4 linked regions of the Homo sapiens genome follow. The protein of the gene in region 1 purifies or fractionates together with the protein of each later gene. This does not show direct contact. Each region holds a gene or a part of one and is shown in the gene's direction. Other genes may lie near its edges.

Region 1 (3,971 bases):
TGTATTTTACCTAATCAAACTCAAACGTTTCTTTTTAACATTTGGTAGTAAACAAGCTGACAGCCTGGGCTCACTAGGAATCTTCACATTGTTGGCCTTCTTAGGTTCCGGGGTAGGGGAGAGCAGCCTTGTGCATCCAAACCACACCCCACACCTCCGCACATGTACAGGAAGCTAAGAATGAAGCTCAGAAAAGGAGAACCATTTCAAAGGCTATGGTACAGGCTGGATGAACTTAAGTCAGCAACTCTTCCCTATGCTGTGCCAGCAAGTGGAGGATGGAAAGTCTGGCCAATCCTTAGACATTTTCTGATTGAATCATCACACATCCATGAAGACTGAGGTCCTTTCCACAGCTTCGGGATTATTTGAATTTGTCCAAGCCCTTCCCTAGCTGGCACTTGCCTGGCAGGCCTCAGTTTGCCCTGCCCTTCCCTCTGTCTGCACACCTAAGTACTACACACTCCTAAGTACTACATCACTTATCATTGGCCACTAATATAATATGATTATGAAAAGCAGGTGTTTAGTACTTTCCCTGACCATGTAACTAAGATGCTGGAGGTCTCTGAATCCTCACACCAAGCACACCAGGAGATTTGGGCCATTGCTATTCTCCACCCCTACCCCCTTTATTGGAGTTTCCAGAGCCGTGGCTCAACTGCTAGAGCAGGTGGCAACTCTAATGACTCCAGAGCAAAAAATAAAGTGGCTTCATAAACGGTCCCCTTGACATTTCCAGAGACATCGTGCTTGGGGAATATAGAAGAAGCAAGTATTAGGAAGGGGAGGATGTGAAACCAGATGGGGAAGTGGCTGAAGCATTCTCTCTGATTGGAGCTTAGTTGGGCACTGTCTCCTCAATGTCGGAGCTTGAAAACTCTTAGAAGCCTAACTTGGAGTAGGACCAACCTACACTCATTCACCCTGAGGTCTGCAATAGTATATGGAGAATGCAATGAGTCAGTCTGCAACATTCGGCTCTGTGGTCCCTTACGCCACCCAGTCTCCTCCTTAAAGAAACTAATGAATGTGCTTGGGAGACTTTGGTTATCTTCAAGGAATGTGCTTGGGAGACTGCAGGTGGCATGATCAGCAGCCATCCAATCAGTAAACTTACCAGGTTAACAGACAACCCCATTTAGGCTGTCTCCATAAGTTCCAGCCTTTTACCACTCTTCTTCAATTCTCCTAGAGCATCTTTGGAAGCATGAGGCCACGATGCTGCATCTTGGGCAAGTAGGACCCCAAATCCAAACATCATCTCATCTCATTCCCAGTGCAGCTCCCAAACCTCAACCCGATTTATTCCTCTTTATCTCTAACATTATTCCAGCCTCCTGTGCCCTACTAGTCACCTCAAAGGGTGACTGAGCGTGCTGCTCAGGGCCTGCCTGAACGGGATCCCATACAGACTTAGCCCCAAGTGATAATCTCCACCTTTAAACCACCCTAACCTCTGTTTGTTTGTTTGTTTGTTTTTTCCATACTTGTCACATTCTCAGCTCCATGTTCAACCTTTTTCCTTTCTCCCTTAGCTCTTGTCTGCTGGATAACAGTCTTCCTCCTCCAGTGTTCAAAAGGAACTACAGGTAAGGACAGGACAGGGAAAAATGAGGAGGGAAGAGGTGGTGTTGGGAAAAGAGACTGGGAATTGAGTATCTGTTCTTCCTTGGATGTACACCATCAATGTCTGCCCCCAGACGCTCCTGTTGGCTCAGGACTGTGGCTGTGCCAGCCGACACCCAGGTGTGGGAACAAGATCTACAACCCTTCAGAGCAGTGCTGTTATGATGATGCCATCTTATCCTTAAAGGAGACCCGCCGCTGTGGCTCCACCTGCACCTTCTGGCCCTGCTTTGAGCTCTGCTGTCCCGAGTCTTTTGGCCCCCAGCAGAAGTTTCTTGTGAAGTTGAGGGTTCTGGGTATGAAGTCTCAGTGTCACTTATCTCCCATCTCCCGGAGCTGTACCAGGTAAAGGTCCCTACCTTGCTCTTAACTAAAGGAATGAGGGAGGGATGAGGGATACAGAGGGCTTGAAGAGGAACTCCTGTTTGTGGAGTTCTAACGGCAAAAGAGTCAGGCTGGTGGCAGCAGGGGAAAGCAAAAAGAAGAAGCAGATAAGCTATAAGTCTGCCTTTCTTCATGGTCGAGGACAAACAGTCCTCCTGCATAAATAACTCACAATCTTCTTGCACCCAGCTATCACCAGACACTCAGCTGGTAGAAAAATGCAAGCAGTGCAGTTGCCTTCCTGATGTAAAAAAACATGCTAAATAATCCAGTGTCAGGAAGACAAAGATGTTTTGCTTCTCTGAAGAAGCTTATAATAATATACAGTATATGTATATGCAGGGAACAATTGGTCAAAAGTGGCTTTTTTGTTTCCCCAAGGGGAAAGACTGGCTTTGTAATTATAATTTTTTCCTTACTTTACTTAAAACTGGTAGAGTCTAAGTATTGTATGAAGTGTCCATGATTCTGTCAGTAAATTTGAGCATATTTTTATTAGTTAATGTCAGTTTAAGTAGTCCTTTTGTTTCTATTTTTAAGATGAATTTTAAATTCTATCTGAAATCAGTAAGATACCTGGAGAAAAACTGCAGTGAGAGGAGGTCAGTATCCTTTTTCAGGAGGAACTGATATCTCTGGCTAAATATCTGTCCTTTTATTATGGTTTCTAAATCGGTTATTTTCTTCAGCTTTAAGTTCATAAAATTAAAAAAACTATTAAAAAATTCCTGTAGCTGTTGGAATAATTAAAAATTCTGGTGCAGTGGTGGTATACCAATCTTTAGAATTCTTAAGTAATCTAATGTTTCAAGTTGAGGTCATGCTTGGGAAAATCATGTCATAGCATTTACATTATTTTCAAATGTCATTTTTTTTACCCTGGAAAGAAGTAATAATGTTCATCATAACCCTAGCAGTCTGGATAGTGAGCTAAACAAACCCTTGGAAGATTACATTTTAATCAAGTAGACTAGGAATACAAAAAACAAGTCCTTCCTCCCCTTCCTCCCACCTTTACAATCTTACTGGAAGGGTGTTCAGAAATTAAAATTTGTGTTTGCTAAGACTTTATTCTGTTGGGGGTTTTAAGAGGTAATACGTGTAATGTAAAATGTATGTAAACCATTGCAGTTTTTTGGGGCATTTTTCCATGCAACAGTAAGTTGTCTGACAGTAACCGAATGTAACTTACAGAAAGTAATTAAAAGTTATATTCAGAATAACAGCAATCAGGCCTTGGATGTTCTTTATTAAACTCTTTTCAGGCAGTAAACTTTACCAAAAAAATCTGTCATTTTCTAAAGTCCTTGTGCTAAAACTGTTGACTATGGAAAACAAACAACAAAAAGGAATGTTTTTAGTCTGCTGCTATTATTAACATTTATTATCTGTATCTTTTGGCTCAGGAAATGACTTCACCTATTTGTTCCATAAGCTGATCTTTAACAGGGTCAGCTAGCTAACTAGGCTGTGTAAACAGATGTGCTGGGAGAAAATTATAATATTTAGTATTTGTCCTAAATATCAAAAATATTTTGACAAGTTTCTTTTTAAGATAGTTTCTAAAACCTTACCCTGGCTAAAGATGTTTTGTGCAAATTATATATAGCCTGCCTGATCTACCAACATGGCACAGAGAATCACAATCAACAATGTGGGGAAAGTCAGGGCAATGGAAGTGGATGTACACTTTTTATTTTGAGGGCTTCAACCAAATTGTCTTGGAATTAAAGGTGTATTTCTGCAGCTTTCAGTACAGAGAAAAAGAAGAAAGTGAAGCTGTGTCAGTTTTAACATTAGCTATATCACAGCATGTTTTAAAAAGATAGATGAAGTCATTTGCATAAAGGTACAGCATTGAAATACTATGTTGTGTTTGTTTTTACATTTTTACATTTTAAAAATGCAGTAAAAGCCAAGTTAAATTTCATTAAAAAAGAAATATGCAAATCAGCTCA
Region 2 (2,592 bases), on another chromosome or scaffold:
TCCTGTCCCCCTAGGCTGCTAGCCCAACGGCAGCAACACTCCTTTGGTCTGCATGGGGTGGCGTGCGTGGGCACGGAGGCCCACCTCTCCCTCTGTTCCCTGGAGTTCTATCGTGCCAATGACACCGCCAGGTGCCCTGGGGGGGGCCCTGCAGTGGTGAGCTGTGTGCCAGGCCCTGTCTACGCGGCATCCAGTGGCCAGAAGAAGCAACAACAGTCGAAGCCTCAGGGGGAGGTGTGTGAGACAGTGATTATGACCTTTCCCACCCCAGGTGGAGAACCCCTAGCCTGGCAACCCCAGACTAAGCACAGCCCTGACCTTTGAGGACAGAGAGGAGCCTTCCAGGGGGTGGGCCACAGACCTGATACCACCCACTCCCTTCCACCAAAGTCTCACTCATCTCCCAGGTCTGCTTAGCCCTCCGTGCAGATGTTGCCATTTGCCTCTGTTGGGCACTTCTCTCTTCTATAGGCCCGTGTCCGTCTAAAGGGCGGCGCCCACCCTGGAGAGGGCCGGGTAGAAGTCCTGAAGGCCAGCACATGGGGCACAGTCTGTGACCGCAAGTGGGACCTGCATGCAGCCAGCGTGGTGTGTCGGGAGCTGGGCTTCGGGAGTGCTCGAGAAGCTCTGAGTGGCGCTCGCATGGGGCAGGGTGAGGTGGCATGGAGGTGGGAGGGAGAGGGAAGGAGGTACATGCTCCTGGGGGGCATATTCCTTCGGAAGGTTAGGTGTCCCCTGGGCAGACAATATATGCTTAATTACAACTTCCTGATCTTTGCCATCTGGCCCTAGGCATGGGTGCTATCCACCTGAGTGAAGTTCGCTGCTCTGGACAGGAGCTCTCCCTCTGGAAGTGCCCCCACAAGAACATCACAGCTGAGGATTGTTCACATAGCCAGGATGCCGGGGTCCGGTGCAACCTACCTTACACTGGGGCAGAGACCAGGGTCAGTCATCCTCTCTACCTTGGTTGAGGTCTCTTTCATCCTATCCAGGTCTGGTCTCCAATCTACAGTCCAATGGCCCCCAGCCCATTGCCCCAGGCCCCTGCCCTCCTGCAGCTCCCACCTGACCCATCACTTGCTAGCCCATTATGTGCCTGAGTCACGCTTCAGCCACATCTGTTAGAGACTCCCACTACCTCACCCCAAAGCTTTCTCCAGCGCTTCCATTCTGTGTCACTACAGATCCGACTCAGTGGGGGCCGCAGCCAACATGAGGGGCGAGTCGAGGTGCAAATAGGGGGACCTGGGCCCCTTCGCTGGGGCCTCATCTGTGGGGATGACTGGGGGACCCTGGAGGCCATGGTGGCCTGTAGGCAACTGGGTCTGGGCTACGCCAACCACGGCCTGCAGGTGAGTGGGAAGGAAAGGGGAGCCGAGGCTGTTGTCTCAAAGCCTGTGTTTTGGGCAGAGGGCTGAGGAATGAGTCCCTTGGCCCAAGATGCTGGATCCTGGGCCTTACAGAAACATCTGCATATGTCCCCAGGAGACCTGGTACTGGGACTCTGGGAATATAACAGAGGTGGTGATGAGTGGAGTGCGCTGCACAGGGACTGAGCTGTCCCTGGATCAGTGTGCCCATCATGGCACCCACATCACCTGCAAGAGGACAGGGACCCGCTTCACTGCTGGAGTCATCTGTTCTGAGAGTGAGTGAAGGAGGGGGTGATGCATGCCAGGGAAGGGAGTGTCTGGGCCACCCGTTTGCAGGGAAAGGGGGCTGTAATCTGGAGGGGCACTTCTTCCCCATAAAAGAGCCAGTTTCGCCGGGTGCAGTGGCTCACGCCTGTAATCCCAGCACTTTAGGAGGCCAAGGCGGATGGATCACGAGGTCAGGAATTCAAGACCAGCCTGACCAAGATGGTGAAACCCTGTCTCTACTAAAACTACAAAAATTAGCCAGGCGCAGTGGCAGGCGCCTATAATCCCAGCTACTCGGGAGGCTGAGGCAGGAGAATCACTTGAACCCAGGTGGCAGAGGTTGCAGTGAGCCAAGATCACGCCGCTGCATTCCAGCCTCGGCAACAGAGTGAGACTCCATCTCAAACAAACAAACAAACAAAAACAAAAACAAAAAACTAGTCTTACACACTAGGGAGGGATGGAAGCACCCCTCTCTGTGAAGTCAGCAGTGACTTCTAACACCCCCTTCCTTTCTTGGTGCAGCTGCATCAGATCTGTTGCTGCACTCAGCACTGGTGCAGGAGACCGCCTACATCGAAGACCGGCCCCTGCATATGTTGTACTGTGCTGCGGAAGAGAACTGCCTGGCCAGCTCAGCCCGCTCAGCCAACTGGCCCTATGGTCACCGGCGTCTGCTCCGATTCTCCTCCCAGATCCACAACCTGGGACGAGCTGACTTCAGGCCCAAGGCTGGGCGCCACTCCTGGGTGTGGCACGAGTGCCATGGGTGAGAGGGTAGGGAGTCAAGTAGAAGGGCAAGACCACGGGGGATGGGGCAAACCTTCTGGGGGCAGAGAAGGAAACAGAAGTTCCCTTCTCCCCACAGGCATTACCACAGCATGGACATCTTCACTCACTATGATATCCTCACCCCAAATGGCACCAAGGTGGCTGAGGGCCACAAAGC
Region 3 (3,500 bases), on another chromosome or scaffold:
TGCTTCAGCCTCCCCAGCAGCTGGGATTGCAGGCGCCCATCACGCCCAGCTAATTTTTGTACTTTTAGTAGAGATGGGGTTTCACCATCTTGGCCAGGCTAGTCTCGAACTCCTGACCTCAGGTGATCCACCTACCTCGGCCTCCCAAAGTGCTGGAATTACAGGTGTGAGCCACCGTGCCGGCTGGCAGCCCTGTTATTAATGTTAGCTATTATTCCTGTTGTCCCCTTCTCTAGGAAGTGTTGGCACCAGGAGCCTTCGCAGCCCTTGGGGGCTCCCTGGCGGCTCCTTGGAGGAGATGAGGCTTGATGTGAGGGGAGCGCGGGAAGAGCGCAATTCTGCCAATACCCCAGAATTGTTTTCCCCAAGATGCCTCTGCACATTCTACTACTACTGAATTTCCCAGCCAGGCGCTGAGCAGAAGGCCCCATGGGGCTATAGGACTGGTAGTCGTCAGTGCCAAACCCGTGTCAGGAAAGGTGGTGTTCTTAGCCATTCAGTCATTCATTCACTAAGGGACAGCTCAGTGCCAGACACTGCTCTATAACTTGTGGATGTGGCAGGAAAGGAGAGAGACCCAGTTTTTCCCCCTCATGCAACTAGGAGATCCAGAAAAATGAACTGAGCCCTACTGGCAGAGTCAGGGAAGACTTCCCGGAGGAAGCGGCATGCAAACTGGGAACCTAAGGAGGAAAAGGCAGTGGCTAAGTCTGTGGGTAGGGCTGGGAGGATGGGGGAAAGGGTGTTCCTGGCAGGGGAAATGGCAGGGCCAAATACCTGGAAGGAAGAGAAAACACGAGACTTCCAGGGAAACCCCCTCCTTCTACCCACTTCCAGTTCCTTCCAGTTCCACCCCCTCCTCACCACTGGGGGAGACTGTGCTGTCTAGAGACTTCTCCAGCAGCTTCCCTGACCTGGTGAGACTTTAAGCCCGGGCTCTGAGCACTGGGCACCTGGTCAGGGCCGCCTTCCAGGTGAAGTTTATTAGAACAGTTCTAAGAGGGCATGTAGTTATTTTGCCAGCATATTTTATACAACAAGATTTTCCTTTTGCAGAATAGCAAATCATAACAATTTGATGAATGAATCCTTTCGTAGGCCCCATATGGTTCCAGTTTCCTTGTGATGATCTCACATGTGGCCCTATAAGTAAACAGGGTGGGAGGGGGGAACCACTGTGTCAACTTCCCTGGGATAGGAGACCCCCTCAGGCTGGAGGGGAGCTCAGGACTGGCTAAGTCATCTGCCACAAGTCACCCAGCGAGGAGCGGGGCTGGGGCTGGGCCTAGAGCTGGGCTGGGCCCCACCTCCTTTAACCCCACAGTGGTCCTAACTAGAGGCTGGGGTGGGAGGGAGCGAGGCACCAGTCGCCATAGCTTCCTACAGGTTATTTGCGGGTTACTACACTGTGCGGAGCCAACATGAGAAGGGGGTTAGGAAGCTGTGTGTTGGTCCCAATTCTGAAAGTGTCTGGAGAGATCTTGATGACACCCACAAACTCTCTGCCTCTGTTTCCTTCACTATAAGATGTGAGTGTCCTCTGGGTAATTATTATAGGTGAAATGCTTTACATTTAGTAACCAATGTCGTCATCTCAGCAGCCCTACGAAATAGGTGATCCAGTGTTGTTTTGAACCTATTTTTATTTTTTATTATTATTTTTGAGACGGGGTCTCACTCTGCCGGCCAGGCTGGAGGGCAGTAGTGTGATCTCGGCTCACTGTAACCTCCACCTCCTGTATTCAAACCATTCTCCTGCCTCAGTCTCCTGAGTAGCTGCGACTACAGGCATGCGCCACCACACCTGGCTAATTTTTGTATTTTTAGTAGAGATGTAGTTTCACCATGTTGGCCAGACTGGTCTTGAACTCCTGACCTCAAGTGATCCACCTGTCTCGGCCTCCCAAAGTGTTGGGATTACAGGCGTGAGCCACTGCGCCTGGCCCTGTTTTTCATTTTGGATCCTGTTACCCACTGGAGTGAAAAGGTCCTGTGAGTTTTGCTACCTAGGTATGAAGCCCGGCTTCTTGTTTTGGCCTAGAACTCCTCTATGGACCTGCACAGTGCCATTTCTGAGAGTCACTGATGCGTGTGATAGGTTGAGGATGGAAATCCAACACCTGTGCACCCAGCATGGTCTCCCCACAGCACGGGGACTCGAGCACCTTCCTGCCCCACCCCTGCCCCAGTTCACCTGTGTTACCTAGCTATACCCTCACCCTAGCCCTGCAAAGGAGGTGCTGTCATTGTCCCCCTCATCAATGAGGGGACATGGAGGCCCAGAGAGTCCAGGTAGCAAGACTGTGGGTGCATAGCTGCTAAGTGACAGCAGCAGGACTTGAGCTTGGGCAGCTTGGCCCTGACGTCATACCCCTCACCAGCACACTGGACAGCCTCGCGTATCTTTTTTTTTGAGACGGAGTCTTGCACTGTCTGGGGTGTGATCTTGGCTCACTGCAACCTCTGCCTCCCAGGTTCAAGCAATCCTCCTGCCTCAGCCTCCCAAGTAGCTGGGATTACAGGTGCCCGCCACCACGCCTGGCTAATTTTTTGTATTCTTAGTAGAGACGGGGTTTCACTATGTTGGCCAGAGTGGTCTCTAACTCCTGACCTCGTGATCTGCTCACCTTGGCCTCCCAAAGTGCTGGAATTACAGGCGTGAGCCACCGCGCCCAGCCAGCCTCACGCACCTTTAGAAGACTTGAATCTTTAAGTCTAGTTCAGGGGGGGATGCCTGTTTCCTTTGGAGTGTGATGGTGGGGTGTGTATGAGCTTTACAGTCAGAGCTGGATCTGAAGCCTGCCTCTGCAGAGGCTGCATGGCCTCGGGCAACTTGGTGATTCTCTCTTTGCCCCCACTTTATAGAATACCTAGGATCATGTGAGATCATTTGTGCGTTCATTCATTCACGGACATTTATTGAATGACTGCTTAGGGCAGGCATGGGGGCAGGAGGCAGAATGAGACAGTGTCTGGCTCAGACTCATGGCACTAAGTACAGAGTTAATTATTTGTGCTAAGTGCTGGGAAGCTCAGAGTACAAAGAGACCATGCAAGAAAGAAAACATATTTGTCCCATGTGCATGCGTGTATATGTGCATATGTGTGTGCATTGGCGGTAGTTAGGGAGGACTTCCTGGAGGAAGGGACCTTTGAGCTGGTGTGGCATGAACAAGCTGGCCTGAGGAGAGCAAGCGTCCTGGGACCCTCCAGCCTTTGAAGCTCCAGGTTCCAAATGCCAGGTGCAGAGGATGCATGACAGGTGGCCAGAGGGGTGAGAGGAACACCAGGGGAGATGCGTCCTGGAAGCCCAGGAGGCCCTTGGAGCAGGGTGGGATGTTGCAGAAGGATGAGGATGCCCCTCTGTGCACTGGGCTGATGTAGGAAGTTGCTGCCGGGGCCAGAGCTGCCTGGAGGGAACTGTGGGGAGAATGCTTCTCGCCTTCCCAGAGAGGTACCTTCTGCTCCTTCTCTCTTGCTGCCTCCTCCCGGCTGGTTCA
Region 4 (3,500 bases), on another chromosome or scaffold:
CAAACACCTGCCAGTAACAGTAAGATAAGAAAGACATAAGGCTATCTCACTAAGTTTGTATAAATTCTAAAATTCAGAATAAGTTTTGTATGAGGTATTAAAAATTTAGTTTATAATTGTAACATCTTTATTTTATAGGCTATTTAAAAATAGGTGTATATTTAACTACAGATGTAATACATGGCTTGAAAAGGAAGCGTAGTGTAACATTTCAGACTGAGTGTGGACTCTGACACCAAGTTACCTGGCTTAAAGTTCCAGTTTTGTTATTTACTAGCTGTGTAGCCTTAAGTAAGTTCCTTAACCCCTTGCTGCCTCAGTATCGTTATATGTAAAATTAAGGTAATGAAAATACCTACATTATGAGATTGCTGTGACTGGTGAACAGGTCGGCATGTAAAATATATGAAACAGTGCCTGAAATATTTTAAAAGCTATATACATTTTAGGTGTTACTATAGTTGAAATAATCCAGAAAATTAGAATTCCCCGTATTATAAGAGAATAGTAAATATTGTCAGATTTTTATATACATAGCATAATTTTTTAAAAATTTATTTAAAAATCTACAAACAGTAAAGTTCACTTTTTTAAAAAATATACTTTCTATGGATTTTCACAAATGTGTATAGTCTTGTGACTGTCAGAGATGTGTGAACTGGAACAAATCCATCTTAAATAGGAGCTGGGTAAAATGAGGCTGAAACCTACTGGGCTACATTTTCAGACAGTTAAGGCATTCTGAGTCACAGGATGAGATAGGAGGTCACCACAAAATTCGGGTCATAAAGACCTTGCTGATAAAACAGGTTGCAGTTAAGGAGCTGGCCAAAACCCACCAAAACCAAGATGGCGACAAGAGTGACCTTTGGTGGTCCTCACTGCTACACTTCCACCAGCACCATGACAGTTTACAAATGCCAGGGCAATGTCAAGAAGTTACCCTATAAGGTCTAAAAAGGGAATGCATGAATAATCCATCCCTTGTTTAGCATATCATCAAGAAATAACCATAAAAATGGGCAACCAGCAGCCCTCAGGGCTGCTCTGTCTGTGGAGTAGCCATTCTTTTATTCCTTTACTTTCTTAATAAACTTGGTTTCAGGTTGCACCGTGGACTCACCCTGAATTCTTTCTTGGGCGAGATCCAAGAACTCTCTTTTGGGGTCTGGATCAGGACAGCTTTGCTGTAATGTGACCTAACTAGGAAATAGAACAGTTTCCTCAACCCCCTAAACTACTTCTTCTTTTTTTTTTTTTTTTTTTTTTTTTTTTTTTTTTGAGAGGGAGTCTCACTCTGTCACCAGGCTGGAGTGCAGTGGCACCATCTTGGCTCACTGCAACCTCTGACTCCAGGTTCAAGCGATTCTTCTACCTCACCCTCCCTAGTAACTGGGATTACAGGCACGCGCCACCATGCCCAGCTAATTTTTGTATTTTTAGTAGAGATGGGGTTTCCTCATGTTGGCCAGGATGGTCTCGATCTCCTGACCTCGTGATCTGCTCCCCTTGGCCTCCCAAAATGCTGGGATTACAGGCATGAGCCACCGCTGGACCAACCCCCTAAACTTATATTGTGTTGTTTCTTTGTAGTCAAACCATCTCCCTACTTGTAATCTTTGCCAACCGCTGATCTGTTTCCTTATCCTTTGGGTTTGCCTTGTCTGGAATGTCATATAAATGAAATAATCCAGTAAAAGATTTTAAAATCATATCTTTTGAGTCTGGCCTCTTTCATTCAGCATAATACATTTGAGATTAACTCAACATGTTGCATGGATCAGTAGTTTGTCGTTATTCTGAGTAGTATGCCATTGTGTGGATGTACTACGGTTTTGTTTATCCATTCTCCCTGACTGACATTTGGCTGGTTTCCAGTTTTTGGTAATTATGAATAATGCTGCTGTGAATAATTACGTATAGGTTTTTGTGTGAATATACATTTTCATTTGTCTTGGATATTCAGTAGAATTTCTGGGTTTTATTGTAAGTGTATATTTAGGATTTTAAGAAACTACCAAACTTTTCCAAAGTGGCCATCCCATTTTGCATTCCCACCAGCAATGTTTGCAAGTTCTGGTTGCTGCATATCCTTGTCAGCTCCTGGTATTGTCAGTGGTTTTATTGTTTTAAAATTTTTTTTTTTAGCTATTCCAAATAAGTGTATAGCTAGCATAATTTGGAACCAAGTTTGTCCATCAAACTCTTGAGACTTGGAAGAAGATAAAGAATAGGGCTGGATTAAATGCAGAGTCACATAGGAGCTCATAAGGAAGAGATGGAGAGACCATCAGATTTGTGAGAGCTTTGCAATTTCTGTCATATTCACTGTTGTAATCCCCAGATGACTAACATAGTGCCTGGCACACGGTAATTGGGATATCTTTGTATGTTTATTGAATCATTGAAAATCAACAAATGATTGAAAGGGAAGGAATAGAAGTAGGATAGAAGTAATTTTAGATTAGATTTGGTCTGAGTAATCCCAGTATATTCATGTGACACACACCTTTCTACCTGCTTAAGTCTGAGTTTAGAGACATATTTCAGGGCTAATTTCTGGCCCCTTCGCAGGAGAAAGAGAGCATGATATAGCAGAAGAAGCAGTAAGCAGAAAAGATTTGATGCTACTAATTTGTTGTGTGGATTTAGGAAAGTCTTCTTAACTCTCCTGAGCCTCAGCTTCATCACTGCATAATGAAAATATTTTATTATATGATAGCTAATTTATTTTTTTTCTGTTAATCACATCAAATCAGAAATTGGTGAGGAAGAAGCATGCCAGAGCCTTGATAAGGGAAGCATTATATATGGATACAACGTGAAGTGTAGCTCTGCAGGGAGTTGAGGGGTGAGTGTTAAACAGAGCTAGCTAATCACTAATTGGCAGAAAAAAAAACAGTAGATAGAAAACGGTAGTTACAGGGTTTCAAACAGAGCAGCAGCGTTGCAGGACTGGGGGGCGGGGTGGGTGTATAAAAGGAAGTAGGCATTAACAATACCAAATTAAGATGTTCGTAGGTTTTTTTTTTTTTTCTGGGGAGAAGCTAGCTATAGTGTCATCAACGCAAAGAGGAGGACCTGAGCCTCAGAGAAAACAAAGTTGAGGATAGGTGGTAACACAGACCACTCTAGGCCCCATGTGTGAGCTCTGGGAATTGTTCAGCATGCTGCTTTCCAGTGGCCTTTTTCTCTACCATTATTACTCCGTTACCCCACTTCTTTAAAGTTTAGGTCTAGAGTTTAGCAAAAAGCCAGCTCTTAGTTGATATTTATTCAGTTTGTACTTTGAAGGATTTTGTACACGTACTGTCAAGTATCAGTAGAAATTTAAAAATAGTCGGCTGGGCACAGTGGCTTACGCCTGTAATCCCAGCATTTTGGGAGGCTGAGGCGAGCAGATCATGAGGTCAAGAGAACCAGACCACCCTGGCCAACATGGTGAAACCGTGTCTTTACTAAAAATACAAAAATCAGATGAGTGTGGTGGCGCGTGTCTG

What was found. Proteins that work in one complex are often made in the same cells at the same time.
Region 2: the proteins of IGFL3 (region 1) and LOXL3 purify together in Homo sapiens (affinity purification with mass spectrometry; one large-scale study listed by BioGRID and IntAct). This does not show direct contact.
Region 3: the proteins of IGFL3 (region 1) and FBLN1 purify together in Homo sapiens (affinity purification with mass spectrometry; one large-scale study listed by BioGRID and IntAct). This does not show direct contact.
Region 4: the proteins of IGFL3 (region 1) and LCLAT1 purify together in Homo sapiens (affinity purification with mass spectrometry; one large-scale study listed by BioGRID and IntAct). This does not show direct contact.

The regions. Positions count from the first base shown.
Region 1 is NC_000019.10:46,121,889-46,125,859, reverse strand, and holds the start of IGFL3 (insulin growth factor-like family member 3 precursor), read left to right. Parts: upstream 1-1,171; 5' UTR 1,172-1,210; coding exon 1,211-1,235; intron 1,236-1,538; coding exon 1,539-1,592; intron 1,593-1,703; coding exon 1,704-1,974; intron 1,975-3,971. UniProt on the Homo sapiens protein: Potential ligand of the IGFLR1 cell membrane receptor.
Region 2 is NC_000002.12:74,534,351-74,536,942, reverse strand, and holds part of LOXL3 (lysyl oxidase homolog 3 isoform 1 precursor), read left to right. Parts: intron 1-14; coding exon 15-234; intron 235-471; coding exon 472-652; intron 653-792; coding exon 793-947; intron 948-1,187; coding exon 1,188-1,355; intron 1,356-1,488; coding exon 1,489-1,651; intron 1,652-2,168; coding exon 2,169-2,412; intron 2,413-2,511; coding exon 2,512-2,592. UniProt on the Homo sapiens protein: Protein-lysine 6-oxidase that mediates the oxidation of peptidyl lysine residues to allysine in target proteins.
Region 3 is NC_000022.11:45,505,883-45,509,382, forward strand, and holds part of FBLN1 (fibulin-1 isoform D precursor), read left to right. Parts: intron 1-3,500. UniProt on the Homo sapiens protein: Incorporated into fibronectin-containing matrix fibers. May play a role in cell adhesion and migration along protein fibers within the extracellular matrix (ECM).
Region 4 is NC_000002.12:30,520,246-30,523,745, forward strand, and holds part of LCLAT1 (lysocardiolipin acyltransferase 1), read left to right. Parts: intron 1-3,500. UniProt on the Homo sapiens protein: Exhibits acyl-CoA:lysocardiolipin acyltransferase (ALCAT) activity; catalyzes the reacylation of lyso-cardiolipin to cardiolipin (CL), a key step in CL remodeling.